4 separate regions of the Homo sapiens genome follow, and all the other regions are reported to be linked to region 1. The links are microRNA targets in miRTarBase. Many come from high-throughput screens and were not tested one by one. Region 1 holds a microRNA gene; each other region holds the end of a gene's coding sequence.
What was found. The annotated mature microRNA hsa-miR-1304-3p reads UCUCACUGUAGCCUCGAACCCC and lies in region 1 at 1,992-2,013, opposite strand. An mRNA with a match to its seed (bases 2 to 7 or 8) in the 3' UTR can be bound and repressed. Matches are read on the target gene's strand: a 7mer-m8 pairs with bases 2 to 8, a 7mer-A1 pairs with bases 2 to 7 and ends in A, and an 8mer does both.

Region 1 (7,119 bases):
CTAGTATTCAACAAAATAACCTGCATGGCCTTTTAAGTAATGAATTAACTTACCAAGAATCTTTGGGATCTAATTTCTTCAACCAATTTACTTTAGGGTCCTAGAAGTTGAATTGTACAAAGTACAGTTACATTTTGACACCTGATCCAAGACACAGTAATGTATACCACATTACAATGTTTCAGTCAATATACAGCACATAAAAAAAGTGGTCCTATAAGAGCTGAAAATTCCTTATTAAATGTTATTTCTAATATTGAAAAGTCAACATTTTTCTCCTACATTTTTACTCATAAACATAGCAAAATGTTACAGGTCTCATTGTCACCACTGCAATATGCATACTGTGATGGAAGCATAACCTGTCTCAATTTAGCCACATTAACTATTTTTGGACACCATGATCAACAGTGCCCATTCTCTAGAATGAGGCATTGTAAAAGTCTTTAAAGCTTAGTAGTGTATTTGTACGAAGTTCTTGTTATGCTGGCAGTGCTACTGATAGAGGGAAACAAGCAGAATCAATAGAAACAGAGAATCTTACCTTTTTACTGTAGGTGGTGGGGATCTACCTGGTTCTCAATTTGACACCCTGGAAAAAAAAGCATTGCTTACTATTTTAGAGTATATCAAACTGAACACTCTGAGAAACCTACACAAATACTGTATCAGTAGAAATACCAGGTTTAACAAGCACAAAGCCAAGAAAACCAACGATGCCAGATACTGAATTTCTATAGCACTGACCTTTGAACACCCTAGCAGGTGTAAACTGCTGAGTGCAGATACCATGCAGTGCAATTATGACTGAACTGTACAACTCGTATTCCCAAATTTGCAATATTGCTGAGAAATGCTTTCACAAACCTCTCAAATTCCTTTAACAAGTACAATAATTTGAGCTTTTTTCCTAATTGTCACTGTAATAAGGAAGCTACATTAACTACATTTTAAGCTACAACTCTAGTCTTTGCCTAATCTTTGCCCAGTCTCTCTATAAAACTTAAAGATGGAATATATACATGTAACTTAACAGATCAGACAACAAACGTCAAGCTCATTGTTGCTCAAACTGCCAGTTACACAAAATTCTTTTTATGTAATTCATATCCCTATTGATTCAACATATCCACACAGGTTTACGTGACTTTAGGATGAAATATGTGTAACTGCCAGTTGAATAATGATGCAAAGAACACAGGTAGTTTCGTTTGGTAGGTATAGACATGCAGTCTCTTCATTTTCCTTCTCTATACAAATATATACATTGTAATATTTTTGCCAGTATCTTACTAATTCTGTGTTATACCTGAAATACTGGGATGGTGTAATTTCTATTTTTCATCTTTTGAGTCCTTGATTATTATAAGTTAAATATTTTACTTACCTCTCAACATGAATGAGTTCAAATCACATTCATTCCTATAGAAAGTACCAATTAAAGATTTAGAAAGGATACATTTCCAGTTATTAAAACTAAAACCCAAGTATAAATTTAAGATCCAGTTTATTATACAGCCATATCCAGCTCTGTCAGAATTAAGTTTTAGTTCATGCCCGTTATCATTCAGCAGTTGAACAGTTAAATTCATCATCTGAACTGTAATCATTATTTCCCAAAAGATTATACTGTCACCAATTAAAACTTACCTAAGCGATCACTCAAGAATGGTACAGATGTGTGGAGTATGCCAATACCTAAGGTAAAAAAGTAGATTATCTGGTTTTTCATAACGTTTAGCAACCGTCTTTTTCAAACTTTTAGCAACTGTCTTGTAATTCCTTCCCACAGATCTAACAATAGTCCTGTGAGTAAAGTAAAACCACAGAGTTACTCTATGAGGCGTTTCCAACGATGTGCAGGCTACAGGAAAAGCCCCATCGGGATAGACCTCAACCACTATTTACAAGGTTTTGATTTTTTTTTAAAGACACAGGATCTGCCATGTCTTTTAAAAATCGTGTGATTCTTGCTGAATCACTTGAGCCCAGGGGTTCGAGGCTACAGTGAGATGTGGCAGGATCACATCTCACTGTAGCCTCAAACCGCTGGGCTCAAGTGTTTCTCCTGCCTTAGCCTCCAGAGTAGCTGGGGACCACAGGCACCACTGTGTCCAGCTAGTATTTATACACATAAATAACAAAGTCTAACACTCCATAGGAAAGAAATTATGAGCAGAAACTGCAATATGCTCTTACAATATTGCCAACTGCAGAAACTTCCTACTACGTTAATCACAAAAACAATAATTTCACAATCACGTTGTGCTTAGGAGCCAGAGGAATGATAAATAAAAAGTAACATCAAGTAGCTCCTTTACATGAACCAAAGGAAAAAGATTTAAACTTAAGATTTAAGTTTAAAGTCTAACTGTTGTTATGAACTTCAGTATTGCAACAGAGGATGTTGTTTTCCCAATTCGAAGATTTCAGCAAATTTTAATTCTTGGCTCAAAATTAATTGTCATCCATTATAAAATACAGGAATATAATGTGCCTGTAAGTTACGACTTTGGCATTATATAACTTTTAATCAAACTCTACATCATTCAAATTTATGAATTCTTATGACCTGTGTAATCATCTTTTATTATACTATATTTTGCATTAAACCATAAAATCCTCTGCCTCATTTTAGATTGTGCATTAATTCAAAATAATGCTGTAGGCTTCAAGTAGGAAATCCAAAGTTCTGATTATTGCTACAAACTAACAAATTCAGGACCCTCTAATGCTTGCAACTAAAATGAATCTGACACATCACTATAAAATGTGTGAATCTAGGATTCTTCTTTTCAGAAATCAGTATAAATGGGAATTAAAAGCATGGTAGAAATGTCCCTGAATAAAATGAAACTTGCTCTGACAACATACTGTTTCCTACACATAAACAAATATGATGTGAAAACTCAAATTGAGACATACCTTTAACTCCAGACACCATGTTCTCAAGATAAAAGCCTTTAAAACAAAAAGCCATTGTGTATATCATCAACATGAAATTGGAATGCAAAATTAATACTGCTGAGGATTTCCCTCATATCCCATGCTGTTTATCTATTCTACAGGCCTGGAATCAACCTTTTTTTCTTAAGAGACAGGGTCTGTCTTTGTTACTCAGGCTGGAGTACAGTGGTGCCATCAAAGCTCAGTGCAGCCTCCAACTCTGCCTCAGCCTCCCCCCTTTCTGAGTAACTCCAACTACAGGCACATGCCCCAGTACCCAGCTAATTTTTAAATTTTTGTGGAGATGTGTTTCTTACTTTCTTGCCTAGGCTGGTCTTGAACTCCTGGTTTCAAGCAATACTCCCACCTTGGTGTGGGGATTGCAGGCTTGACCCATTGCACCTGGCCTGGAACCAACCTTTATGGCTATCAATACTCCCATCAATCAACTGTCTCAGGTATCATAATATCCCTTCTTATATGTATCAAAACTCATACTGAACAATGAGTTCTGGGTTGCAAAAGAGGATTTATTTTTTGCACCTATCTGTAAGTCTTTGTCCACGTTAAACAAAAACATACATAAGTGCAGTCCCAAAATGCACTACATAGCAGAGTAGTCAGCTCTATCGTGGTGATCAAAATAATGAACATCGGGGTAATGACTGGTTCTCCCCAGGTATACATGTTGAATAAATGTGTATGCCTTTTCTTGAACTAATAAAAAGTGAAAATGGTAGTTAAAAGTAGTATTAGGCCAGGTGCCATGGCTCACACCTATAATCCCAGCATTTTGGGAGGCCAAGGCAGGCGGATCGCCTGAGGTCAGGAGTTCGAGACCATGGTGAAAGCCTGTCTCTACTAAAAAAACAAAAACTAGCTGGGTGTGCTGGCTAACGCCTGTAATCCCAGCTACTAAGGAGGCTGAGGCAGAATCGCTTGAACCCGGGAGATGGAGGTTGCAGTAAGCCAAGACTGCGGCCATTGCACTACAGCCTGGGTGACAGATCGAGACTCTGTCTAAAAAAAATAGTATTAAAGATACTCTAAATTTGGAAAGGGAAATGAGGTTATTACAATACTAAGCATCTGACAGGTCACTTGTCATGGCTGAACAAAGCTGGGATAAAATTACAGCATTTCAAATCCCCTCTTCAAGATGGTTGGGTGTCAAGTTACTTTAAGATTTTCTTTTCAAAATTAAAATCACTACATTTCATTGTTTCAATACTCACAGGACACCTGTAAGCTCTTATTCAGAAATCAAATGACAATTTCTCAAATTTTTCTATGTATTTTCTCTGGTGTTTTAATGGTTTTTTTTCTAATTATTACTACTTCACAAGTTTCTTTCACAAACTTCTTCACAGGGTTAAAAATTTTTTTTCTTGTTATAAAGTTCTGGGTTTCAGAATTTCTTCACCACCAGACTGGTACATATATCCACATTTATCTTTATTCATTTCTATGAAGTCGTTTTTTCTATATGCTTCACCTTTGACATTCATGATCCTGTCACATTTTCAGGCCTCTCTGTCCAGTATTTTTGGCTTTTGTAGCTCTCTTTTTAGACAAAGCAGCTTCTTCAGTAATATCCTCTTCTTCTAAGTATACACTCAGTCTTACAGGGAATTCAGAACTTACTATGAAACTATCCCCCTGCATAAAACAAACAAAAAATCATGGATTAAGCAATAACTCAAATAGTTTAGTAATTACATATAGCTGAATGCCCTGGATTACTTCAGATAACCTAGAGACTACATGTAGATGTTAAAAATCCAAATTAACATTGCTTATTTTTTCATTTGACATCCTAACTAGCAATAATATGTATCAGAATGCTACTTATTAAAAATAGTACTGAAAACCCCATGTTCTTTATCAAGTCTCTAAAAAATTATTTTCCTTCTTGCATTTCCTGCAGTAAACTTATAGAGCTTTTCAAAAGTTAAATGAAGTGTAAGAGAAAAACTAAATATAATTCCTTCTGTATCAACCAACTCCTGCCTTCCCAAAATGGAATAGGAAAAAAATAAGTCACTTACTGCCAATTTGATATCACATTCGTTATCTTCAAGATGTGTTGCATCCTCATCCTCTGCTCTGTAATATTAAAATTTATCATCGAGATGACAGAATCTTCGATGACCTAATTAGTTGTATATTCCACTCTGAAATATAACTGAAACTGCAATACTAGTCAAAGGAAACACAAAATTTGAGAATTTTGTGTTCTGGAGAATTCTAGATGAACGGTGTGCCAAGCTTGGCTCAACTGTAATAATCCCAATTGTCATACTCTGTATCTTTGTTCATTATTTAAGTATAACTATATTAAAGGCAAAATATGAAGCAATTAACATAGAAATTTAATTTATAACCTATTACCAAAGTATTTCATATGATTCCACTTACGTTGACTCCTCAATAGGAGAAATGGATCCATCATCATCCAAAAATTTGTATCTACGACTGTCAAAATCTTCATTTTCTAAATCTTCACCAACATTCATTTGCTTCAATGATTCTTTCAGGTGGTGTTCATACTTCAGTTTTTCAATATAGTTAAAAAATCCTCTTGCAACAGCTTGCTATATATTAAAAACACCATAAGTATGTCGAGATTTTATTTTTAAGACCCAGCAGGTGCCTATGTTCAAAAAGGGCAATGCCCCCCCTTAGCAAAGACTCTGAATTTGCTATCTTAACTACTCCCCACTTGTGGACTTATCAAATGCTGATTATTAAAATTCACATTACAATTATGAATTTACCTAAGCTGGTAACATGGAAAAGTGAAGTACATATCTTGTCATGTCTGGGACTTACTAAAGGCATTTTAAAATGTAAAAACAGGAATAAGATTTCTAATGTTTACTATAATCACCTTAAACTTAAGAGATTAACTGAAGAGATTAACATGTATTAATCCTCCCAAATAAAATTTCAGGTTCTGGCAAGGGATCATAAATTAATTCTGAATTCATTCAACATACAACTCTCAAATATTTAAAAAAGTCTACTCCTAAGTATTAGCGTATTTTTCAGATAATTGGCTTAGAAACATCTAGGCCTTAAGAATATATCCACTGAACATAAGGCATGTGTGGTTTTAGTTTAGGTTACTGCAAAAGTAATTTCAAGTTATGTGAGCTTTTATTATCCCCACTGAGTTTTAGGGTTGTGTTTAAAGACCTGAGATGGGATAAGATCAAAGGATTTTATACAAAGAGCCTTGGAGCACTATCTTTTAAATATGGCAAAGTGTAGTTATATTAAGAGATACAAGTCAAGATTCAGTTGAAGGATAGGGTGGACTTTAGGGGTAAGTCAGTATAGAAGAGTATCAAAATTGCAGACAGTCTGTTCCCAGTATATCTGAGACAATTCTAAATTGGCCAACAAATCATTTTGGGCATCTTGAGTTATGTGTAGCCATGTATGTAAAATGCTGACTCACCTCAAACGTTAAAATTTTTCTCCAAGGTGCGTTTTTTTCATTCTCTGATTCTAAAAATGGGAAGCCAGATCCTCTGCTTCTAAATTGTTTCTTCTTATCTATTAGTGAGTATATAGGATTTCTCCTTCCTTCTGGTCTTCCCCGTGGTCTTCCTGTTGGCTGGTACCTCCTCTTTTTCTTTTTTTTATATCTCTTTTTCCTGTTCTTGAATCTTTCAAAAATAGCTTTTATAGTCAATGGTATTGGTTCAAAAGATGAGTCACTTGATGAATCACTTGCGTGAACACTTTCAGGTGTACGAACAAATTTTCGAATGGGGTTTCTTTTCTCCCCTTTAGGTGAGTAAGGGATACACTGAGTTTTAAATAAGCTGCTATCAGAAGAGTTATCACTAGAAAAATGGGAAAAAAATTAATTTCATCTTCTTTTCTTACTGCTTATTACCATTAATACCCAGTCCTAAATGTACATTTCTTCCAAGACCAACTCAGAAAACATGCCCAGAATTAAAAATTTTTTAAAGGATGGGCTCAGAACCAGCTAGCCTTTCTACTGATCATCCTATTTAAATAGCCCATAATGCTACAGCTCTTATTAAAGAGTTTTGTAGACATCGTCTTGCTGTCACCCAGACTGGAGTGCAGTGGTGCAATCACAGCTCACTGCAACCTCAAACTCCTGGAAACTCCAGGGATGCTCCTGCCTCAGCC
Region 2 (7,119 bases), not on the chromosome of region 1:
ACTTTCTAATGAGATTTCCACACTTAGTACTAGTTGTAGTCATTTTCAACACATCAGTTCAAACAATAACAAAGACACTCATAAAATATTTGGAAAAGAACTTAATGGTAACCAGTTAATGGAAAAAAGAGAAACTGAAGGCAAAGACAGCAAAAGGAACTACTACTCTAGAGGTCACCGTTCTATTCCAGGTGTTGCTATAGATGGAGAGAACAACATGAGGCAGTCACCCCAAACAGTTTTCTCCTTGCCAGCTAACTGCGATTGGAAACCGCGGTGGCTTAGAGCTACATGGGGTTCCTCTACAGAACATGAAAACCGGGGGTCACCTCCTAAAGGTAACCTCAAGGGCCAGTTCAGAAAGGGCACAGTCAGAACCCTTCCTCCTTCACAAGGAGATTCTCAATCACTTGACATTCCAAACACTGCTGATTCTTTGGGAGGGCTGTCCTTTGAGCCAGGGTTGGTCAGAACCTGTAATAATCCTGTTTGTCCTCCAAATCACGTAGTGTCCCTAACGAACAATCTCATTGGTAGGCGGGTTCCCACAGATCTTCAGATCTAAACAGCGGTTGGCTTTTAGACATTATATATATTATCAGAGAAGTAGCCTAGTGGTCGTGGGGCACAGAAAAAATAGATAGGGGCAGCTCTAAAGACCAGCTGTTAAGACAGACAACTGCAAACTCATTTAAGCAAGAGAAAAACAGCTCTAATTCGAGATTGTGAAGCAACACTTCTAAATTCAAAGACATAGAGTTGTCAAATCAGGATTTTTTTTTTTTTAAATGATATCCTTTCGAATGTAACTGATTTTGGGAAAATCACATGTTCAGAATTGAGGCTAAATGGTTTGATCAGGTTTTCTCTTTGAAGAGACCACAGCCTTAGGAAATGGTTCTTGATCTATACAATTCCACCTTGGACACTGGGTTAATTCTGTTTGCCCCTGGAACACAATCACGTAAGTTTCCTTCTAGACTGGCATCCTGATGTGTCTTGAGTATAATCACATGTTGCTACCTAGTAAATAAAATCTTAAGAAGATCCGTGGCTTTCCTTCACCAGTTCATAGCATCGTGATTCATTGCCCGGATTGGACTCGACTCTACTCACTGGACATCTAACCACTCCACTTAATTAACAATACCCACCCTACAGGGGTGTTGTAAGGATTAAAATTTAAAATACCCGTGTTTTCTACAGTGCCTGGCTCAAAAGCTACTGCAAGCTCGTTACTGCTCATCCTCCAGAGGCCCACATCAAGTCAGCCACGACTCAAGGAGACTCCAAAGATAAAAGCTGAAGCCAAAATATATGATTCTAAACACCCTCCTCGGCTACTGCAAAGCACTGTGAGCACTTTCTCAGGACGAGAGCCAAGAAGCCCAGCACCTATGGGTCACCACAGTTTCCGAGGTCCCAGATGAAAAAGATGCGCTCGCTACCACCGTGCGGCGGTCCTTTCTCTCGCAATAGTCTCAATGCTCCCGGGCCCTGCCTCCGGACGCCAGGACAGAGGTACCAAAATCTCACCTCCTGCAAAGAAACCTAATTGCTACGGGGGCCGGAAGAGGAAGAGGTGCGGCTCCGACAGCCAGAGGGGCGGGCATACGCAGCCTCCCTCGGCTCAGCCTGCTACTGGGGATGCAGAGCGTCCTGGTCGCCATGAAAACAGGCCACACCTCGGCGATCCCGGCCGGTGGTTTGCAAGTGCGCAGGCGCGCGCCCCCTTCCGCGCATGAGCAGTGCTGCTCCCAACCCGCCAGTCGCGGTCTCCGGCGCCAGCTACGCCGCTGCCGCTGTCACTATGGCCCATTACAAAGTGAGGGGGGCGCGGCGTGGCTGGGGGCATGCGGGCGGTAGCAAGCCGCTGGTCGGCTCTGGGTGGGAGTGGGGTCGCGCGCGCAGGTTTGGGCGGGAGGGCCCCGAGGTAGTGAGGCGGAGGCGGGGTTGCCGGACTCCCAGCGCCTTCTTCCTGCTCGGCTCCCGGGCTCTGGCCACTGACCCCCGGTGTCTCTTCAGGCCGCCGACTCGAAGCGTGAGCAGTTCCGGAGGTACTTGGAGAAGTCGGGGGTGCTGGACACGCTGACCAAGGGTGAGCCTGGGCTAGGAGAGGGTACCTCGTGCCCTCGTCGTGCTCCCCGGCGCTGCCCCGTTCCCCAGCGGGCCGTAGCGTGGGGAAGGAGGGGAAACAGATGGGGCCCGTCCGGGGTCCAGCGAGGTGGGCCTCGGGGTTCAGCAGGGACCTGGCTGCTGGACGCCGCCCGGGTGGGGTAGCCTAGCTCCGCTACCCTTCTCCGCACCGGGAGTGAAACTCTTGCAGCTGTTGCAAAGTCTCTTCAACTTCCGTTGCTTTGCCTCCAGCAGCCGCAGTGGACATGTTTGCCAAGGACCTTCAGATCCCAATTCCTCCCACCTTACGGTTTTTATGGAGTCCTCAGAATCTTGTTAAGAAAGTTTCCCTCCAACAAAGAGCAACTGGAAAAATGACCGAATTTCCAAGTGGGCTATGAAGTAGCTGAGTGAGCCTAATCCCCAAAGTAGGAGATTCATAGCGAATTTGGCTGTGGCTTTTCAGCCCCCATTCCTTAGTCTGTCTGTGTCAATTCTTATTTTGTGTATATTTCATAAAGTAGAATTACAGCTTAAAGAGCTCGAGGGCATATCAAGGTGGTTACATTGTTTTCACTTTTTAAAATGAAAGCTTACTGTTAACGCTGTATCTCTTCATTCGTGGCTTCAAGATCTAAGTTAAGTAGATGAGTAAAGTGTTGGAAACAGGAGGATTTCAAGGGGTAGGGTACAGTTTACTTTATTGGCTTAGCACTAATTTGAATGCCTGCTATGTGTCACTCAACTCACTGGGATATTCAAGGGTGTAGAATGGAATTGTTCGCAGGGATGAGGACTTGGGTCATATGAAACTAGGAAGTTTGGGAAGTGGGAAATAAATTGGTAACTGCCCTTTGGACAGAAGCAAAGTTTAGAGGAAAATTCTAGGAGCATAACTCCTGGGTCTTAGAAGAAAGAAGGCTAGTAATTTTGAATTGCTACCTATTTGGGGTTCAGATAATAGTTTACCTCTTTGCAAATAAACTTCAGCAAGTCTTAAGGGACTACTCTGTGAAAGTACTGTGCTATGTTGTCTCTGAAAGTGTCACAGATGCTTTGAATGTCATTCCGTCTAAAAACTCCTTACGTTCATTTCTTTCATTTAATAATTTTACTCAGGTGTCTGTTCTGCACACTGGAGATAAGCAGGGGAGGATAAAAGTCTCGGCTCTCATAAGCTTATATCCTAGTTGAGGGAGAGAAATACATAAATAAATATGTAGTGTCAGCTAGTGGTAAGTGGTACAGATAAAAATACAGCAAAGTTAGGGATAAAGAGTAACAGGTGAGGCCAGGCACGTGGCTCATGCCTGTAATCTCAGCACTTTGGGAGGCTGAGGTGGGTGGACTGCTAGAGGCCAGGAGCTCAAGACCAGCCTGGGCAACATGGCAAAACTCCCATCTCTTAAAAAAAAAAAAAAATTGCTGGGCATGGTGTGTGCCTGTAATCTAGCTACTGTGGAGGCTGAGGTGAGAGAATCACCTGAGCCCAGGAGGTCAAGGCTGCAGTGAGTTGTGATTGTGCCACTGGGCAACAGTGACACTCTGTCTCCAAAAAAAAAAAAAAAAAAAAGTGACAGGTGGGATGTGTGTGTCATTTTATATAGGGTGATGGGGGGAAGGCCTTTCTTAAGAAGTAATTTTTGACCAGAAACCTGAAAGAAACAGAGTTTCAGGAAGTCTAAGGAGGCCAGAGTGGTTGGATGGAGCAAGTGAAAGACTGAATGGTAAAAGGCAGAAAAATGACAGTTGTAGGCGGTAACTGACTACACAGAAGATGTTGCCCAGGCTGGAGTGCAGCGGCATGATCTCGGCTCACTGCAACCTCCACCTCCGGGTTCAAGCGATTGTGTTGCCTCAGCCTTCCAAGTAGCTGGGATTACAGGCATGTGCCACCATGCTTAGCTAATTTTTTGTATTTTTAGTAGAGAGGCGGTTTCACCACATGGGCCAGGCTGGTCTTGAACTCCTTACCTCAGGTGATCCGCTCACCTCAGCCCCGCAGAGTGCTGGGATTACAGGTGTGAGCCACCGCCCTCCACTAGAATTTAACCTCTCAATCTCCTTAGATTTCCAGGCTCCTAAATAACATCAGCCAACACAGTATTGATGTGATTTATTAAAAATTTGATTTTCAGCTCCAAACATAGGTGCTTTACACAATTCTATTTGTTTTTTTTTTTTTTTTTTTTTTTTTTTTTGAGACGGAGTCTCGCTCTGTCGCCCAGGCCGGACTGCGGACTGCAGTGGCGCAATCTCGGCTCACTGCAAGCTCCGCTTCCCGGGTTCACGCCATTCTCCTGCCTCAGCCTCCCGAGTAGCTGGGACTACAGGCGCCCGCCACCGCGCCCGGCTAATTTTTTGTATTTTTAGTAGAGACGGGGTTTCACCTTGTTAGCCAGGATGGTCTCGATCTCCTGACCTCATGATCCACCCGCCTCGGCCTCCCAAAGTGCTGGGATTACAGGCGTGAGCCACCGCGCCCGGCCTCTATTTGTTTTTACTTTTTATTTTTTTTGAGACAGAGTCTCACTCTGTCACCCAGGAATGCCTGGCCTCAAGTGATCCTTCTGCCTTAGCTTCCCCAAGTGTTGACGTTACAGGCGTGACCCACTGTGCCCAGCCTCACAAATTTAATTTACATATATATATTTTTTCGAGACAAGGTCTCTGTCGCCCAGACTGGAGTGCAGTGGTGCAGTCATGTCTCAGTGCAGTCTTAATCTCCCAGGTTCAAGCAATTCTCCCACCTCAGGCACCCAAGTAGCTGAGACTACAGGCACGCACCACCATGTCCGGCTGATTTTTAATTTTTTTTTTTTTTTTTTTTTGAGACGGAGTCTTGCTCTGTCACCCAGGCTGGAGTGCAGTGGTGCGATCTCTGCTCACTGCAAGCTCCGCCTCCCGGGTTCACACCATTCTCCTGCCTCAGCCTCCCAAGTAGCTGGGACTACAGGTGCCTGCCACCATGCCCGGCTAATTTTTTTTGTATTTTTAGTAGAGACGGGGTTTCACCATGTTAGCCAGGATGGTCTCAATCTCTTGACCTCATGATCTGCCTGCCTCGGCCTACCAAAGTGCTGGGATTATAGGCGTGAGCCATCATGCCTGGCCAATTTTTTTTTTTTTTTGTAGAGTTGGGGTGTTGCCCAGGTTGATCTCAAACTCCTGGGCTCAAGCAATCCTCCTGTCTTGGCCTCTCAAAGTGCTGGAATTTCAGGAATGAGCCACTTTGGCCTAAATTTTTACAGCTTATTTCCAAGATGATTTGAAATAGTTTATAACATTAAAACACTATGAAAGGATGGCTAAAGATGATAAATCATTTGGAAGCTGAAGCATTTTAGCTATTTTGAGCGCTATATCAACCTCTAAAAATCCTGGCTGCGAAGGCAAAAAGGGGAGCATGATTGGGTATAGAGTTCTTGTCTGATTACAAGGAAGTGCATTTCATCTATAGAACAGCACAGGAAACTTTGTATTTACAGTATCTTCTGCAACTATCAACCTTTCAAGTACCAGTGACAAATGAGAAGCTGAAAGAAATGGGGTGGGGGAATAAGAGGAGGAGAGAGTAGAGTATTAATATTCATGTCTTATAAAATGAGGATTTGGCCAGGTGTGGTGGCTCACACCTGTAATCCCAGAACTTTGGGAGGCTGAGGTGGGTGGATCACCTGAGGCTGGGAGTTCGAGACTAGCCTGACCAACACAGAGAAACCCCGTCTCTACTAAAAATACAAAATTAGCCGGGCATGGTGGCACATGCCTGTTATCCCAGCTACTAGAGAGGCTGAGGCAGGAGAATCGCTTGAACCTGGGAGGCGGGGGTTGTGGTGAGCCAAGATTATGCCATTGCACTCCAGCCTGGGCAACAAGAGCAAAACTCTATCTCAAAAAAAAAAACAAAAAAAAAAAACCAAATGAATTTCTCAAAAAATAGTGATTTTTTCATACTGTATATTATTTTGGTAAGTTATTAAAACTCTAAAAGAACAAAAGGGAAGTATGTAAGTTGGTTTACAACAGGACTTAACTTGGGGTCTAGATATCTATCACTGTTTTTTTGTTTGTTTGTTTTGTTTTTTTGTTTTTGAGACAGAGTCTTGCTCCATCGCCCAGGCTGGAGTGCAGTGGCACGATCTCGGCTCACTGCAAGCTCCGCCTCCTGGGTTGACGCCATTCTCCTGCCTCAGCCTCCTGAGTAGCTGGGACTACAGCCGCCCGCCACCACGCCTGGCTCATTTTTTGTATTTTTTAGTAGAGACGGGGTTTCACTGTGTTAGCCAGGATGGTCTTGATCTCCTGACTTCGTGATCTGCCCGCCTTGGCCTCCCAAAGTGCTGGGATTACAGGTGTGAGCCACTGCGCCCAGCCACATTTTTTTTGTGTGTGTTTACTTTTTTTGCTTTTATTAGATTTTTCAAAGGGTTCCATGCACAAAAAGGCCAACCACTGATTTAGAGTTTTTTATCTAAGTAGTAAATTCTAGGAGGAATTTGTTCCATAGATGAAGAGCAAGGCAGTGCTCATATGAGTGATTAGATATGAAACCACTCAAGTATATCTTATTTTAATGTTGATTTGAGCATGTTGACTACTGGTAAAGTTTTTGGTTGGTGGTTATTTAGCAAAACAAACTTAATTTTTAAGACCATTTTTGAATTCAGAGCTTCTTCCGGTAATTACCATAGTCCTGTTGATTCTTTCCTAAATTCTCGAATTTCTTTCTTCTCACTGTTCTCTCACTCCCATCACTCTACTGCAGGTTGCTGTCTTTTTAAACTGGATTACCACATCAGCCTTTTAACTGTTCTTCCTGTCTTTATCCTTGTCCCACTCCAGCTGGTCCACATAGCAGTTAAGAGTGGATCCTGTCACTCCCTTCCTTTAAACTGTTTAATTATGTGCCAACCAAATTTGCATGACTCTCCCTAATCTGGCCATGACCACCTTTCCAGCTTCCTTTCCTGCCAAATTACATCTCCAGCCATACTTGAATTT
Region 3 (7,119 bases), not on the chromosome of region 1:
TGGCACGATCTCGGCTCACTGCAAGCTCTGCCTCCTGGGTTCACGCCATTCTCCTGCCTCAGCCTCCCGAGTGGCTGGGACTACAGGTGCCCGCCACAAGGTCCGGCTAATTTTTTGTATTTTTAGTAGAGACAGGGTTTCACCGTGTTAGCCAGGATGGTCTCGATCTCCTGACCTCGTGATCCGCCTGCCTCGGCCTCCCAAAGTGCTGGCATTACAGGCGTGAGCCACCGCGCCCTGCCTTAACTTTTGTTAATCATTAAAATATAATATAGTTATTTTGATTGATTAACAGATGGAATGAGATTTTTAAAAATTCTCTTAGCTCCTTCAGTAGTGATTTTTTTTTTTTTGCAAACTTTAATAGGTTTTCTTAGCTTGACAACTCATTCTCTATATTCACGAACATCTCCTGACTTGTTCCTTCAGTGGAGATACCCTTTTCTAGCCAGAGTTGGCAAAAGTAGCAATAGCATGCATTGGCTTGTTTGAGAGGCCCTGGGTGAGCCTTTGTTGCATAAAGTAGGAGGTCTGTTATTGTCTTGGTAGCATATGCCTTCATTATAAGTTTGCCTCTTTGAAAGAATATTCAAAGACCAACACAAAAGAGAACATTTCCAGATCCAAGAGAGTGTATGTAGAAACAGTGGCAAGTTAGAAAATCAACTTAGGTATCAGATAGCAGCCACAAAATATGTTCTGAGGAAAAATTCATAGCAATTTATAACAGCTGAGAAAAAGAGGGAGGATGCGGGAAGGTAGATTTTGTCAGAACTTACTAGACTAAGGATTTATTGCATATTTTTTACTAATTAAATGTTGGGGATGTCAGACGTGGTTGAAAATAATTAAAAGTCTGGTTAAATAAGGCTTTTTCACCATAGCTTACCTAAAGAAATTTAGGTGCAAAATCTAGGTGATTATTATTATTTTCTAAAATAATAATGCTAGATAGCAGAATTCTTAAATGCAGAAACTTTGTGTCTGCAGCGCCCACTAAGCATTAGTGTCTGGTCCATAGATTTGATAATGGAAAGACCCTGCTTTAGCTATGCCAAGCCATGAGGTTACCTGAGGCAAGAATGTGGGTGTGTGTGTGTTTCATCTGAGTTAGGACCATATAAATCTTATTATCAGTAGAAGTCAGTTGGACATGAGAAGACATGACTGAAGTTAATCTCATATTTTGTGTTTAAATACTCATTTTTCACTTAGTAACAATGTCTCCTTGCAGGATTGAAAATCATGTCATTATGCCATTTGAATAAATACAGGATTACCTGATTCTTTACAGCTTTATAATCAAGAAAGTTCCTTGCAATCCTTCTTTTGATTATGAAAGAACATAAATACTTCTTCTGCCTTCTGGGGAAATGAGGACATACACGTTGTTTCAATATCAATGTTTTGCTTATATTATCATCATTTGATTCTCTGTGTTGTCACATAGAATTCACTGTTTGCTAATTTAGTAATGATGAATTCTGCACACAGAAAACATCAGAGATGTTCTGAGGCATAAAATTGAAAATATAGTCGTACCATGTTCCTCAGGAAAATCAAAGTAGAAATGAAACTGATTTCAAGGAGTAAAAAATTTGTAGTTGTTAAAATATGTTCTTTTCCACAAATCATGGAAACACTGAGCTGGAAGGACATGTTTAAGGTAATCATTTCATATCTGGATACATTTCATACAACCTCTTCTAAATAGTGCTTTATCAAAGTAATTCTTAGGGACTTGACTGAGAAAGAGATTCCAGGTAGTTTTTTTCAGTACTTACAACATCAGTTATAATTGTATAAAATTGCATTTTAATTTTATATTAAAATACAAAAATTGTAATTTAAATTCAGCTAAATACTTGTTTCTGCAATTTAGGCTTTTGGCTCATTCTTATTAGTTATTGGTTGTGGAAGAGACCTGGTCACTGGCCCCTGAAAGAAAAACCTCCACATGTACTTCAAAATAGCAGCATCATGTATTAGCATTCTCTCTCTCTCTTTCTCTCTCTCTCTGTCACTCTCTCTCTCTCTCCCTCCCACACACACATATGCCTACATTATACTACTTATTTAATCTTTAAAATTACATCTAGATTTGTAATCCTTTTTATAATTTTCATTTTCTTTGTATTCTTTCTAATTTTTAATGTTCTACTCAAGTCTTAGACTGGAAGTGAACGGATTATTCTGAGAGTAATAGTTATTATTTCCAGACAATTATTGATAAACTTTCACATCTGTGTCACTTATTGTGCAAATTTGAGAAAGTTATTTTGCTTCTCTGAGTCTCTGTTTCCATGCCTGTAATCTAAGGATTACTCTAGAATTGAATTAGAGTATGTAGCTCTCTTGACCACGTGGTAACCCTCACCAATGTCTCTTTTCTTCTTGCTCTGATAACCGCATCCATTTGTACTTGTTCTTCAGACATTACCCTCTTGAGTTTTAACTATATCTCTATTGTGTCTAAATTTTTTTGTTTTTTATTTGTAAAAATGAATCAAACTGTGGAAGAAAAAGAAAGTAAAGACACCAACCAGAGAACAGCCTGATGTCTTTGGCCAGGGAGGGAATCTCAGCATACTCTGGACAGCAAAGCAAGAGGAGTCTCAGCGTTCATCGTGGAAAACGTGTGGTTTCTGGCTTCTGGAATTTAAATGATTGTGTATCTTCTTGTCTTATCAATTATCCCCTTTACGTAAAACCATCTCAGACTATGTGACTGAACGCTGTGAAACCATATAATCTCTAATTCAGTATTCCTCTTTGTAGACCCAGAAGAAGATACGAGACAATGTGGAAATGCAAGAACAAGAAGGATTCTTAACTTTTACTTGTTTCTAAATTGTTAGTTGTATTGAAACTAGTCAGTTGAATGTGTCCCATTCACACTCTTACCTCACGTATGAAGGTCCTCAGGTAAAACTAAACCGATTTTGTCACTTTCGTTCCTTGAACTTTCTATGAATAGAAGAAGCTGGTAATATTTTTGGATTTTATCTACATGACTTTCATTTTCCTGGAATTGATTTGAAACATTTGAGTTAAGCCAACTACCATTCTTTACTCAATATTTGCTTTAATCCAGTTTCTTTTTCTCCCCATACTCCATGTCCAAGCCTCATTGATCAGATTTAAGAAGGAGGAAGGTCAGCCAGAAGAAAGTTCTGAAGCGTTGGAGGGACTTATTCTGTGGCATCTTTTAAAAGGAGACATAAGGACTTTAGCATTTACAGAAAAACAGTTCCACTTCTGGGGCTGATGGCTTTCACCAGTGACATGGTACGCATTTTTCATCAGGCTAGATTGTAAACATTACCTTCTCTTTACTCCAGCTTTTCTCCCCAAGTCATCTTAGAATGTCACAACTTTTGAATGTCACAACAGTGATCTCTCAGTTACCTGAGAGACAATTGCAACTTGCAAAATAAACAGTAAATGACTTAAAGCATCCAGTTAGTAAAGTCCCTCTGCCCTGACCTCATCCAGCACTTTCTCCTGCACTATGTCCACCTGAAGTCATCCCGAATCTTGACATACTTCCTTCCTGCCTGGAAGATGCAGAAAAGGAATCAGCTAGAAAAAATAGCTAAAATACTGATAAAAATACATACGTGAGTCATTTTATATCAGGGGTCCCCAACCCTGCCCCCACCCCCCAGAGTACCTGTCTGTGGCCTGTTAGGAACCAGGCCGTAGCAGGAGGTGAGCTGCGGGCAAGTGAGCAATCCAGCTTGAGCTCCGCCTCCTGTCTGATCAGCAGTGGCATTAGTTTCTCACAGGAGCGTGAACCCTATTGCGAACTGCGCATATGCGGGATCTAGGTTGCCTGCTCCTTATGATAATCTAATGCCTGATGATCTGAGGTAGAACGGTTTCATCCTGAAACCATCCCTGCCGCCGTCTGTGGAAAAATTGTCTTCCACAAAAGTGATTCCTGGTGCCAGAAGGGTTGGGGACTGCTGTTTTATAATCATATTTCTTAATAACTATTAATATAGAGAGTAGTTCAGCTTTTATTTATAAATTTATTGCCTGTTTTATTATAACAACATTATACTGTTTATGGTTTAATACATATGGTTCAAAATGTATAATACATCAAGTAGTACAGTTTTAAAATTTTATGCTTAAAACAAGTTTTGTGTAAAAAATGCAGATACATTTTACATGGCAAATCAATTTTTAAGTCATCCTAAAGATTGATTTTTTTTTGAAATTTAAAAACACATTTAATTTCAATTTCTCTCTTATATAACCTTTATTACTATAGCATGGTTTCCACTACAGTTTAACAATGCAGCAAAATTCCCATTTCACGGTAAATTGGGTTTTAAGCGGCAAGGTTAAAATGCTTTGAGGATCCTGAATACACCTTTGAACTTCAAATGAAGGTTATGGTTGTTAATTTAACCCTCATGCATAAGCAGAGGCACAAGTTAGCTGCATGTGCTCTAGACTGTAGAGCGAGCCACCGTTGAGAAGCAAAGGACAGCAGCAGGAAGAGCAATGGAACCTCCTCAGGACTTACCAGGCTGCTGCACAGGATCTAGCTTCTCCCACCTAAGATGGGCACATTGAAAGCCTTGTTGCAGCAGCACCCCCATCTGTGGAAGCACAGGCTGCCTGCACTTCTCCAGCTGCTCTAGCACCTGACTTCCTGGTAGTCAGGGTACCAGGGAGAGGGAGGAGCACCAGGGTGGGGGATATTTAGGGGACCTCTTTCCTTCAGGACCACACCCTTCTAGGTGAAAGCACAAACACTTGATTACTTTGCATTCCATCTGCAAAAACAAATTTAGGTTTTGAATATGGTGAAAAACGAAGAAAGGAAAATATAAAACTCTGTATTTTATATACAGTAAGGAATAATGGAGGCTGATAATGATCTTGTGATCAGCTAAGACAATGTCAGTAAGCAGGTGAGGTAGGGTGCTTTCTATGGGCAAAAGGGTGAATATCTTGAATGACCAGAAATGACTCGAAGAGCTGCATTACTATCATGGTAGCATGCATGAAGTGATACATCTAAACCTTTGCTAACCTAACATTATTACTCTCAAGCTTTATTATCCTCAAGGCTTAAATGGCTGTAGCTGTTTAATTTAAAAGCAAGGCTTAAAAAATAGAGGTTACTCATAATTCCCTTTCCATATCCCTTTTTGACTTGAAAATTATTTCACCAACTACTTTTCTGGAATGCTGCTTATAATACATATTCACAGATTGCCCTATGTGTTATTCTAGTCATTGGCCCGTTTTGCTTATAAAAAAGGCCATGTTTTGTATTCCTACAAAATCTGCAGACATTGTTAACATAATACACGTCATTATACATCATATGTATGCTACATCTACTCACTGACATTTAAAAAATGAGCTATTTTCAAAGACTAACACAGGATCTGTTACTGAGACGTGTAGGAAGGAGCTCAGTGTAAAATATTTTCTTTGGATAGATCCCTTCAAAGGGATTAAAACACACAAAATATTATTTATACTAAACTTTCTTAAATGTTCTATGATATTTCTATTTCAAAATTCTCTTATTGTGAGAATATGTGAAATATAGATGTAGCAAATTCAACACATAAGCTTATACCCCTTAGCTTGAGTAAAAGACACATATATGGCTTCCCAGCACCAAGAAGATGGAAGAAACTCTACTGCAACTACTTCCCTTTTTCCAAGCAGCTCAAAATGCTTTAGCAAATACCTTGTGATTCTTTTTTTTTTTTTTTTTTTGAGACGGAGTCTCGCTCTGTCGCCCAGGCCGGACTGCGGACTGCAGTGGCGCAATCTCGGCTCACTGCAAGCTCCGCTTCCCGGGTTCATGCCATTCTCCTGCCTCAGCCTCCCGAGTAGCTGGGACTACAGGCGCCCGCCACTGCGCCCGGCTAATTTTTTGTATTTTTAGTAGAGACGGGGTTTCACCTTGTTAGCCAGGATGGTCTCGATCTCCTGACCTCATGATCCACCTGCCTCGGCCTCCCAAAGTGCTGGGATTACAGGCGTGAGCCACCGCGCCCGGCCCCTTGTGATTCTTACATCATTATCAATGATATAAGAAAAGGCAATGGAGACAAGAACCAGCGCTCCTGCTTAATCCACTAAATCACATTGCATTTTAAAATGATAAACACCTTCCTTTGGCAGGGGAAAAATAGAAGCTTAAGAATGTTTAGGAAAATTTCCTGGCGAATATGATTTTAGGGTTTTGAAAAACTTTAAGATTTACTACAATTTGAATAGTACTTGAGAATTAGGAGTGACAACATATTGCTTTTGGGGTATGAACCCAAACATTTAATTTATAATCGTGATCAGTTTATGAGAGAAGCTAATAAGTGCCAAATTATTAGCCCAATACAGTGAGCTTTGCTATGCTATTTTGAATACTTTAGTCCAAAGATCCAGATTTGGTCAGTGTGGTATTCCAGCTCATTCTGGTCATATTAGACGGGAGCAAGGATCCTCTGTACAGAGCATAGTATGTGACCCTCGTAGCTGCGTTGGGCCAGCTAGGTTGCCAGGAACACTGGAAATGGGACAGATCACCCTTTCTGTCACTATCACATTTTGTGTGAGAAGTGGATCAAAGCCTGCAGTGGAAGGTTGCACGAGGGAACCAGAAGCCGAGTAAGTCTCCGTTACTAAATAGTTACCATGCTGCAGAGGGTCAGGGATGGAAACAGCTGGCTGGACAGACCCAGAGGTGGACAAAGCAGAAGCTCCTTGACTTCCTGACAAAGTCTGGCACTTAACAAATCCTGTCTGCTGGACTTCTATGGGATGGCCACAGGATTCAATCCCATAACCGCTGTCTTTAGAGGGTGGCTGAACTTCTTTGCCTTCACCATCAACACCAAGGCTTATCTCTGCAAGTTTTTTAAATTTGGGTCCAAGTGAGTCCAAGAAGCTGTCATCCAGGTCATCAGCAATAAAACTGCAACAACCCACGGAGCCCACAGGAGAACCAGTGGCATCTGCGCCTTCATTATCATAGATCAACAAGCAGTCATTTGCTTCCTGGCCATCGTCTTCCTCCGCACAGGCAAATGCTTTCTAAGACAGAGAAAAAGTGGGAAAAAATGAATTTTAAGAAAGAGTCAG
Region 4 (7,119 bases), not on the chromosome of region 1:
AGTGGAGGGAGCCAGGCCAGGGGATTGGAGATTGGGAGGGAGGCAGTGGCTCAGGCTGTCCTCAGATGTCAGCTGTGGGTTTTATCCTCATCAACTCTGCTCTGAACCGGTCCCCACGTGCATTCTGAGCAGCGCCACCGCCGCACTGCACAGCTGCTGCCTCAGCACATGTCATCCAGTTCTGGTGGTCTCTCTCCGTTCTGCCTTCCGGCAGGCCCTGGCTACTCCCTCCGTGCCTCCTAACTGCAGTTCTGCAGTGACTGCCAGTGCCGCTGGCTAGGGGGTGGGTCAGGTATCCTGGGGTCAGGTGTCTACCTTAGGCTGCACATTTGCTTGGGATTGTCTTGGTAGGAGCTGTGAGGGGCAGTTTTGCTGAGAGGGCGCTCTGTGAGAGAGAAGCCACACTGCAGAGTGTCTTGAGAAAGGTGAAATAAGCAGCAGGTGGTCCCCGTGTAGCTTGTCCGGGTGCCAGAAGTGCAGTGGCCCAGGAGGCTGCTGTGGGAGGCCGTGTGGGCCTGTGCTTAGGTGGTTGTCGCATGTTCCACAGCAAGACAGATGACAACTTGTCCTGGTGTCTTCAGACACTCAGAACGCAGGAGTCATGAGAGTGGCTTTCGTTGAGACCTGCGTGGCCAGCACTCTAGAGGTGGGGCCGACCCCATGCAGTTCTCAGGTTCTTTGTTTCTGGGACACAGCTCTTGAAAGCCCCCGCCAGTGTTTTAAATAAATGGGAGACCTTGCCAGGCTGCTTACGTATAAGACTCCCTTTTACATGGAGGGTGTTCCCTTTTCTTTCAGAGCCCAATGACGAAAGTGGAGCTAACGTGGATGCGTCCAAAATGTGGCGCGATGACCGGGAGCAGTTCTATAAGATTGCCAAGCAGATCGTCCAGAAGTCTCTGGGACTGTGAGACCTGGCCTCGCACAGGCGCGCACACACCGCCAAGCAGCTCAGCATTCTCCCCCGGCACACTTAGTGACAGTGATGCTCTGTGCTGGTACCAAACAAGGCAGACTTGCAAGAACCATGGCATCTTTTTTTTTTTTCAAACCTTTCCTACTTCAAACAGGCTTCTCTTCTGAAATGATGACTTAATGTCGAATATTGACAGCTTACTGCAGTTTTACAGTATTCCTCACAAAGGGCTTCAGGTAGATTATCAGAGCTGTCAGCACTACCTCTCCCCGCTGAAACCAGCAGTTCATGGCTTCCTGTGGATTCCCTCCCTCCCTGGAGTGTTGAGGGGGTTGTACCTGCCAGACTTCCAGGGGACGATGGAATACCCAGAACGCTCCTTCTGAAGAAATGGGGCCCTGTAGCTGCAGCACAGGGGAAGGGCCCGGCACCCTTTCTGGGTCCTTCCTGGTTCCCTGTGGGCCCCATGAGGAGTCCATTACTTCCTTTCTTCCTTCATATTTTACAGGCAGATGCTTTTCTTATAATCTAATTACATCTTTTCATTTGTTATATATTACAAACCATCACACTTAGAAATACTTCCAGGAAATGCTTTTTTGAAGTGTGAATTAATAAGAAATGGGGTAAATAGAAAAGAAATTTATTGCTGATTGGCCAGGTGCGGTGGTTCGTGCCTGTAATCCCAGCTCTTTGGGAGGCCAAGGCAGGTAGATCACAAGGTCAGGAAATTGAGACCATCCTGGCTAATACAGTGAAACCCCATGTCTGCTAAAATTACAAAAAATTAGCTGGGCGTGGTGGTGCACGCCTGTAGTCTCAGCTACTCAGGAGGCTGAGGCAGGAGAATCGCTTGAACCCGGGAGGCAGAGGTAGCAGTGAGCTGAAGTCCCGCCACTGCACTCCAGCCTGGGCAACAGAGCGAGACTCAGTCTCAAAAAGAAAAAAGAAATTTATTGCTGATCACAAGGACAGACAGTTTTTTCCCGACCATACTCATCAAAGATTTACGTTTGTATATTAGTAACTAGTGCATTACTAGAGCAGGTGCAGGTGAGGTCTTTAAAGTTTCAATGAAAGTTTCTTCTGGATCTACAGAAAAAATTTTTTTTTTTCAATCTAAAAACTGGAAATTCTAGGGTTTTTGTACATTTTGGATGCACTGGGAATTTATTAGCACAAAATCATTCTTTGCAACTCAAAATTCAGAAGGGACTCTACCATATCTTAGCTCAGAGCACAGAGGAGTGCCTTATCCCCACACTTGACTGGGCTGTGGAGGTGGGCATGTGGGCCCCTGGGCCCAGGCTGGGGACAGAGCCCTTGTTTTGTGACTTAGGATTTTGATGTGGTTCCCATGTTCTCTAACAGGGCCAGCTGAGCAGCACAGGCCAGGAGGCCACAGTGTAAGCAATAACAGATCTGCCACATGCAGAAGCAAATATCAGGCCTGTCGCACACGGGCGGCATTTAAATAGGAATTTCTATTTTTGAAATAAGGGATGGTCTATGAGGCATACAGTAGATTTGATGTGATCCTTTTCTCCCTCCCTTCCATAATGGATCGTGGTCTGTGTGACTGAACCCACACAGAGTGTCATGGGTGACAGTTTCTGGTTGAAGTAGCTCCACGCCTGGCTTCTGTGGACAGCAGATTCTTTTCCTTCTCACAAGGGGCTCATTTAAAATTTGGAGGCTGGGTGCTGTGGCTCACGCCTGCAATCCCAGCACTTTGGGAGACTGAGGCGGGCGGATCATGAGGTCAGGAGATCGCGACCATCCTGGCTAACAGTGAAACCCTGTCTCCACTAAAAATACAAAAAATTAGCCGGGCGTGGTGGCGGGCGCCTGTAGTCCCAGCTACTCTGAAGACTGAGGCAGGAGAATGGCGTGAACCCAGGAGGCGGAGCTTGCAGTGAGCTGAGATCACGCCACTGCACTCCAGCCTGGGCAACAGAGTGAGACTCTGTCTCAAAAAAAAAAAAAAAAAAAATGGAACGCAGGGCAAGAACTCGTATTTGGAAGGAGATGGGGGAAAGGAGCGGTATTATACCTATGTTGTATTTGCAGGCAAATGAGATGGAGCCCTCTCTGTAAAGAAGAGTCATTTGTGCAAGTAGACGGGGTCTGTGGGTGCAGGCCCTGGAGGGGCACACAATTGCCTGGAGGCTTCTGTGAGATCGGGAGAGGGAGGAGAGGCAGTCTCTTGACAAAATAAAGTATTTTTATTCATTTGTATTTATTAAATGAAAAAACAATCCCATGGTGTCCCTGTTGTGTGGTGGAACCTAATGACTGTTGAAATAAAGTTCTGTGTTTTCCCTGCCCTGCAGTGTGTGTCCCTTTGTCGTATTGTCAGAGGAGCCTGTGGCCACTGCCCCCAGGGAGCACACCAGATCATCCCAGCTGGGATTCCTCACGGTGGGGGCTTTTCTGCAGACTTGGGTTAGCTCTGGCATGTTTTCTTCTGTTTCTGATCTCCCTTCTGTCATTCTGTGGTCTTCCTCTGGAATTCTCAGGTTAGTTGGGGTCTGTGAGACGGATGTGTTCACTAACCTATAAATGACATTTTGCAGCTTTTTCAGCAGATGCCATTGTGTGAGTGGCACATTTGACCACTAGAAGCCAGCAGGCTGTTCCGACTGCGCTTCCCTCCTGCAGTTGCTTAGAAGCACAGCTCCCTGTCATCACTCCTCTGTGGTCCTCTGTGGTCACGGTTGGTTGCGATGAGACCTGCCTCTGCGTCTTGTTACTTAGCATGTCAATAAAGAGGCAGATTCCTGTGTCAGTGATTTGCTGTTTCTGTTTTGGTAGTTGGCGGTCAGCTTTCCTTTGTAATCCTGTGAGGCAGGGTCCCCAGGCTTCCCCAGGTGCTGGCGCCTCGTTCCCTGGGCTGGTTCCCAGGCTGCTCCTGGTGGGGTGCACTGGGCGAGTGCCTCAGCACAGGCCCCCAGGCATGTCTGTTCTGCCCTTTGCCCAGTGTTCTCACTAAGCATTCTTTTTAATGGGTAAGAACTCTAATGTGATACTGAGTTGGGGTCCCCAAGACCACCCAGGGCGGCGATTCTCCAGGAGGACAGAGGCCATGCAGGTCACGGTAGTCACGGCTGTGATTTCCCACAGGGAGGACACTGAGCAAAATCGGCCAAGGGAAAGGTTCCTGGGGCCGAGTCCAGGGGCACCATGCTCAGCTTTGGAGGCCTCTCCTGGGGTGGGGGTCACGCAGGATGCGCCTCACTCCCCTGCAAGCAGCTGGGACTCTGCGTGTGCGATGTTGGGGATGCCCTGCCTGGTGATGTACCCGGGGGCTGGTCACGTGAGCAGCTTCTGCCTGGGCTGCGCTACAATTCCAGACTCTCAGCAGGGATGTGAGTGTTCTGCCTAAACCACCTTGTACAAATAGCACAGGCCCAGTGAGGCGGGGTTCAGGGAGCCCCTCGGAAATCCCAGTTCCCAGACGCCAGCCAAGGGCCAGCCCGGCCAGCGGGCCTCAGGACGGCCGTCCCCACTGTATGGACCCTTTCTGCGCAGATAACCTTGGGGGTTGACAGTGATTTTTACCATTTCATTTGCTCTGTGTTTCTGGGTTTTGTCTGCTGGCACTGGTTTGCCACAGTTGTTTGCCTGTCTGGCTGAGTGCCGTCCTTGCTTTTCCCATGCAACTGTCTGCTTCCTGGGATGGGGAGGGCTGCTGGGGTGGCCAGGGAAGCTCTAGGGTCTCATCTTCTGGGTGTTGGGGCTTTTCACCCTTCCTGGGGGTTAGCGGCCCCAGTTCACTGCTTGGGCCACAGCAAGGGTGGCGTCCACAGCTCTGACTCTCACTTCTGGGATTGCTGCACCTGCTGGGGCTTCTCCAGTCCAGTCTCTGTGTAGATGAGGTTGCTAATTTTTCAGAGGAGTGCTGTTCTGTACCAGTTTCTTCATAGGATATGGAACTGCTCCAGCTGCACAGAAAGGCACCCCAGGGCAGCCCCAGCTTCCCTCCCCTGGGCGTGCCTTGCACCGTGGCCCCCTGAGCTGACAAGGTTTCTGCAGGCTGGAATTTGTGCTGGAGGCGAGGGCCCTGGGGATGCTACCTGGACACAAGGAGGGGACAGGAAACAGGTACAAAAATTCGGGGCTGCCAAGGGGCAGTGAACACACTAAGGACAGGTGGATTCTGGAAACCCTGCCCTGGAGGGGACCGCGGGGCCGCTTGGGGTGGGGGCAGGGTTTGGAGAGGGGCTGTGAACAAAGCCAGCCCCTCTGGGTGTTGGCCTGGGGCCTGGACCCTGGGCTGGGGGGGGCACCCTGGGAGGAGGTCTCGTCGTGCTGATGTGGCGTGGTGGCCCCATCTGGGAGGGAATGCTGTTGGGCCCAGGTCCTGGCTGAGCCCTGTGGAAGCTGGAGGTGTTCAGCTCCTCAGATCTGTCCAGGTTGTGACCCGTTGTCACGAGAGCCTGGCTTTGTTGAGGGGACAAAGCAAGGTGAACCTCCCTGCAGAGGCAGGAAACACCAGCTTCCTCCCCCAAACCCCGGCACCACTCAGCCAGCCATAGCCTGTACCCCCTCACCATCCCAGACACACCTTCCAGGCCTCAACACCCACCGAACCCACCCACTGGGCAGTGCCAACTGTCTGGTACCCCGAGGCAGGTCTGGTGCCCCCGAGGCAGCTGGCCCATGCCCTTCGTCATCCCCTGGTGAACATCTGTAACCCCTGCCCTTGGCCTCACCCCGTTGAATGTCCCAGCCCTGCCCTCTGCTGGGTGGGCGTACTGGTTCGGGGATCCCATAGGAGCGTCAGGGAGATGGGGCTCTCCACCTTTGTGCCCCTCCTGTGCCCCCGTTCCCATGCCTGGACTGTGAGCGCTGCTGGCTGTGTGGAACCTGACCTCCAGGGCCCGAGCTCTGACACCAGAAGTGGGCAAGTCCTCACACGTCCGGGCATCTTCCCCTCTGAAGGCTGTGAACCCAGCCATGAGATGTCCGAGGGCGTGCTCTGAGGAGTTGAGGTGGGGGAGGTGAGGTCATTTGCCAAAGCCCCAGCCAAGAAATGGTCCTCGCCGTGCCCCGATGCATCGCTGAATCTGCAAGGCCCCCCACCCTCCAGGACTGTGGCCCCTCTGCCTCCATGGGGTGCGGTTGGTGGCATGAGGCCCACTGCACCCTCCTATGCAGTGTCCACCTAGACCCAGGGGCCTGCTGGGCAGCCTCCACTGCTCCACCTTCCCCCGCTTCAGGTGCTGGCCTTTGCGACACAGCCACCTCATGTCTCTTCTCGCACCCTGGTCTGGTCCTCTCAGTCCCCCCACCATCAGGCTTATTAGCCCACCTGCTGCACTTGGCAAAGCCTCACCTTCCACTCGGGGCCAGGAGACACCAGGGCCCGGCCCTCAGCACCCTCCCTTACATGCCTGGAAGTTCCTCTGTCCACCAGCTCAGTGGGGAAGTGCTCTGGACACCCCAGCCACTTTCCTTCTGCTCCAGACTCCAGATTTTCCTCCCCCTGCAGTGGCCATGCATGTTGTCTGCCTCCCACAAGTGTGGCCCTGCGGCCCTGCCCCCAGCTGGGTGGTGCACTGGTCAGGTGACTCACTCCCCTACATCCTTATCAGAACCCCCCGGGGGCTGGGGTGAAGATCGGCCAGCCTGGTAGCTGGCAGTGCTGTTGCTCTAAGTTGCTTGTCATAGGGATAACAAGAACGCATCCTGTGGCTTTCTTTTTTGAGTACAATTTCATGAGAGGCTAGGATGGCAAAGTGAAAGGAACTGGTTTTTCAGGTGTGTAAGTACAGAGCATTCAGCCCCATCTCTGTGGTCGGGAGATGATGCAGGGCCCTATCTCCGGTTTAGGCTTTGCAGTGGCACCCTGTCGTGTGACTGGGTGGGGCTGGGTGCCTTTGTGTGGGGACCACAGACCTGAAAGCTGCTCCTGGCATTGCCAGGAGTGTTGTCTGGGGCTTGCCAAATAGGCATGGGCAGAGTTGGCGTGGGGTGGCGGGGGGGTCGGAGGGAGGGCAGGATGTGTTCTGTGGTCCTGCCCTGTGGGCAGAGGCTGACGTGGGGCATCCCCACTGCTGCCTGGTCAGTGGCTGTGGGTGAGCTGTGGGCCTGGCAGCTGAAGGTGGCTCTGGCCAGCCTGCTGGGGCTTGGCCTTCCTCAGACCCCAGCAGCTGTATGACCTGGGCTAGCGAGGGAAGCTGTCTAGGTCTTTGTTTTCT

Region 2: miRTarBase lists GJA9 as a target of hsa-miR-1304-3p. The part of its 3' UTR that is shown has no 7-base or 8-base seed match.
Region 3: the mRNA of DSG3 is a reported target of hsa-miR-1304-3p. Seed matches in the 3' UTR shown: 7mer-m8 at 5,812-5,818 and 7mer-m8 at 5,364-5,370.
Region 4: the mRNA of UBE2G2 is a reported target of hsa-miR-1304-3p. Seed matches in the 3' UTR shown: 7mer-m8 at 1,793-1,799, 7mer-m8 at 2,830-2,836 and 7mer-A1 at 2,874-2,880.

The regions. Positions count from the first base shown.
Region 1 is chr11:93,731,700-93,738,818 of GRCh38, forward strand. It overlaps MIR1304 (microRNA 1304), which reads right to left and starts at 2,065; the gene lies at 1,975-2,065. It overlaps TAF1D (TATA-box binding protein associated factor, RNA polymerase I subunit D), which reads right to left. Exons shown (of 6, transcript NM_024116.4): 3 at 6,410-6,800; 4 at 5,365-5,540; 5 at 4,995-5,052; 6 at 3,868-4,605. The coding sequence ends at 4,462. It overlaps SNORA1 (small nucleolar RNA, H/ACA box 1), which reads right to left and starts at 434; the gene lies at 305-434. SNORA8 (small nucleolar RNA, H/ACA box 8) reads right to left here and starts at 800; the gene lies at 662-800. It also overlaps SNORD5, SNORA18 and SNORA40. RefSeq lists an enhancer at 6,219-7,119.
Region 2 is chr1:38,867,997-38,875,115 of GRCh38, reverse strand. It overlaps GJA9 (gap junction protein alpha 9), which reads left to right. Exons shown (of 2, transcript NM_030772.5): 2 at 1-1,047. The coding sequence ends at 565. It overlaps MYCBP (MYC binding protein), which reads left to right and starts at 1,768. Exons shown (of 5, transcript NM_012333.5): 1 at 1,768-1,825; 2 at 2,026-2,098. The coding sequence starts at 1,811. The region is part of intron 1 of RRAGC-DT (RRAGC divergent transcript); the gene reads right to left. All of the region lies in intron 1 of GJA9-MYCBP (GJA9-MYCBP readthrough), which reads left to right. RefSeq lists an enhancer at 2,212-2,734.
Region 3 is chr18:31,475,598-31,482,716 of GRCh38, reverse strand. DSG3 (desmoglein 3) reads right to left here. Exons shown (of 16, transcript NM_001944.3): 16 at 4,015-7,071. The coding sequence ends at 6,457. Among named protein-coding and RNA genes, the nearest start is that of DSG2, 19 kb to the left of the region's middle.
Region 4 is chr21:44,765,169-44,772,287 of GRCh38, reverse strand. UBE2G2 (ubiquitin conjugating enzyme E2 G2) reads left to right here. Exons shown (of 6, transcript NM_003343.6): 6 at 799-3,708. The coding sequence ends at 911. Among named protein-coding and RNA genes, the nearest start is that of UBE2G2, 33 kb to the left of the region's middle. RefSeq lists enhancers at 2,763-3,263, 5,105-5,868, 5,869-6,632 and a silencer at 3,560-3,854.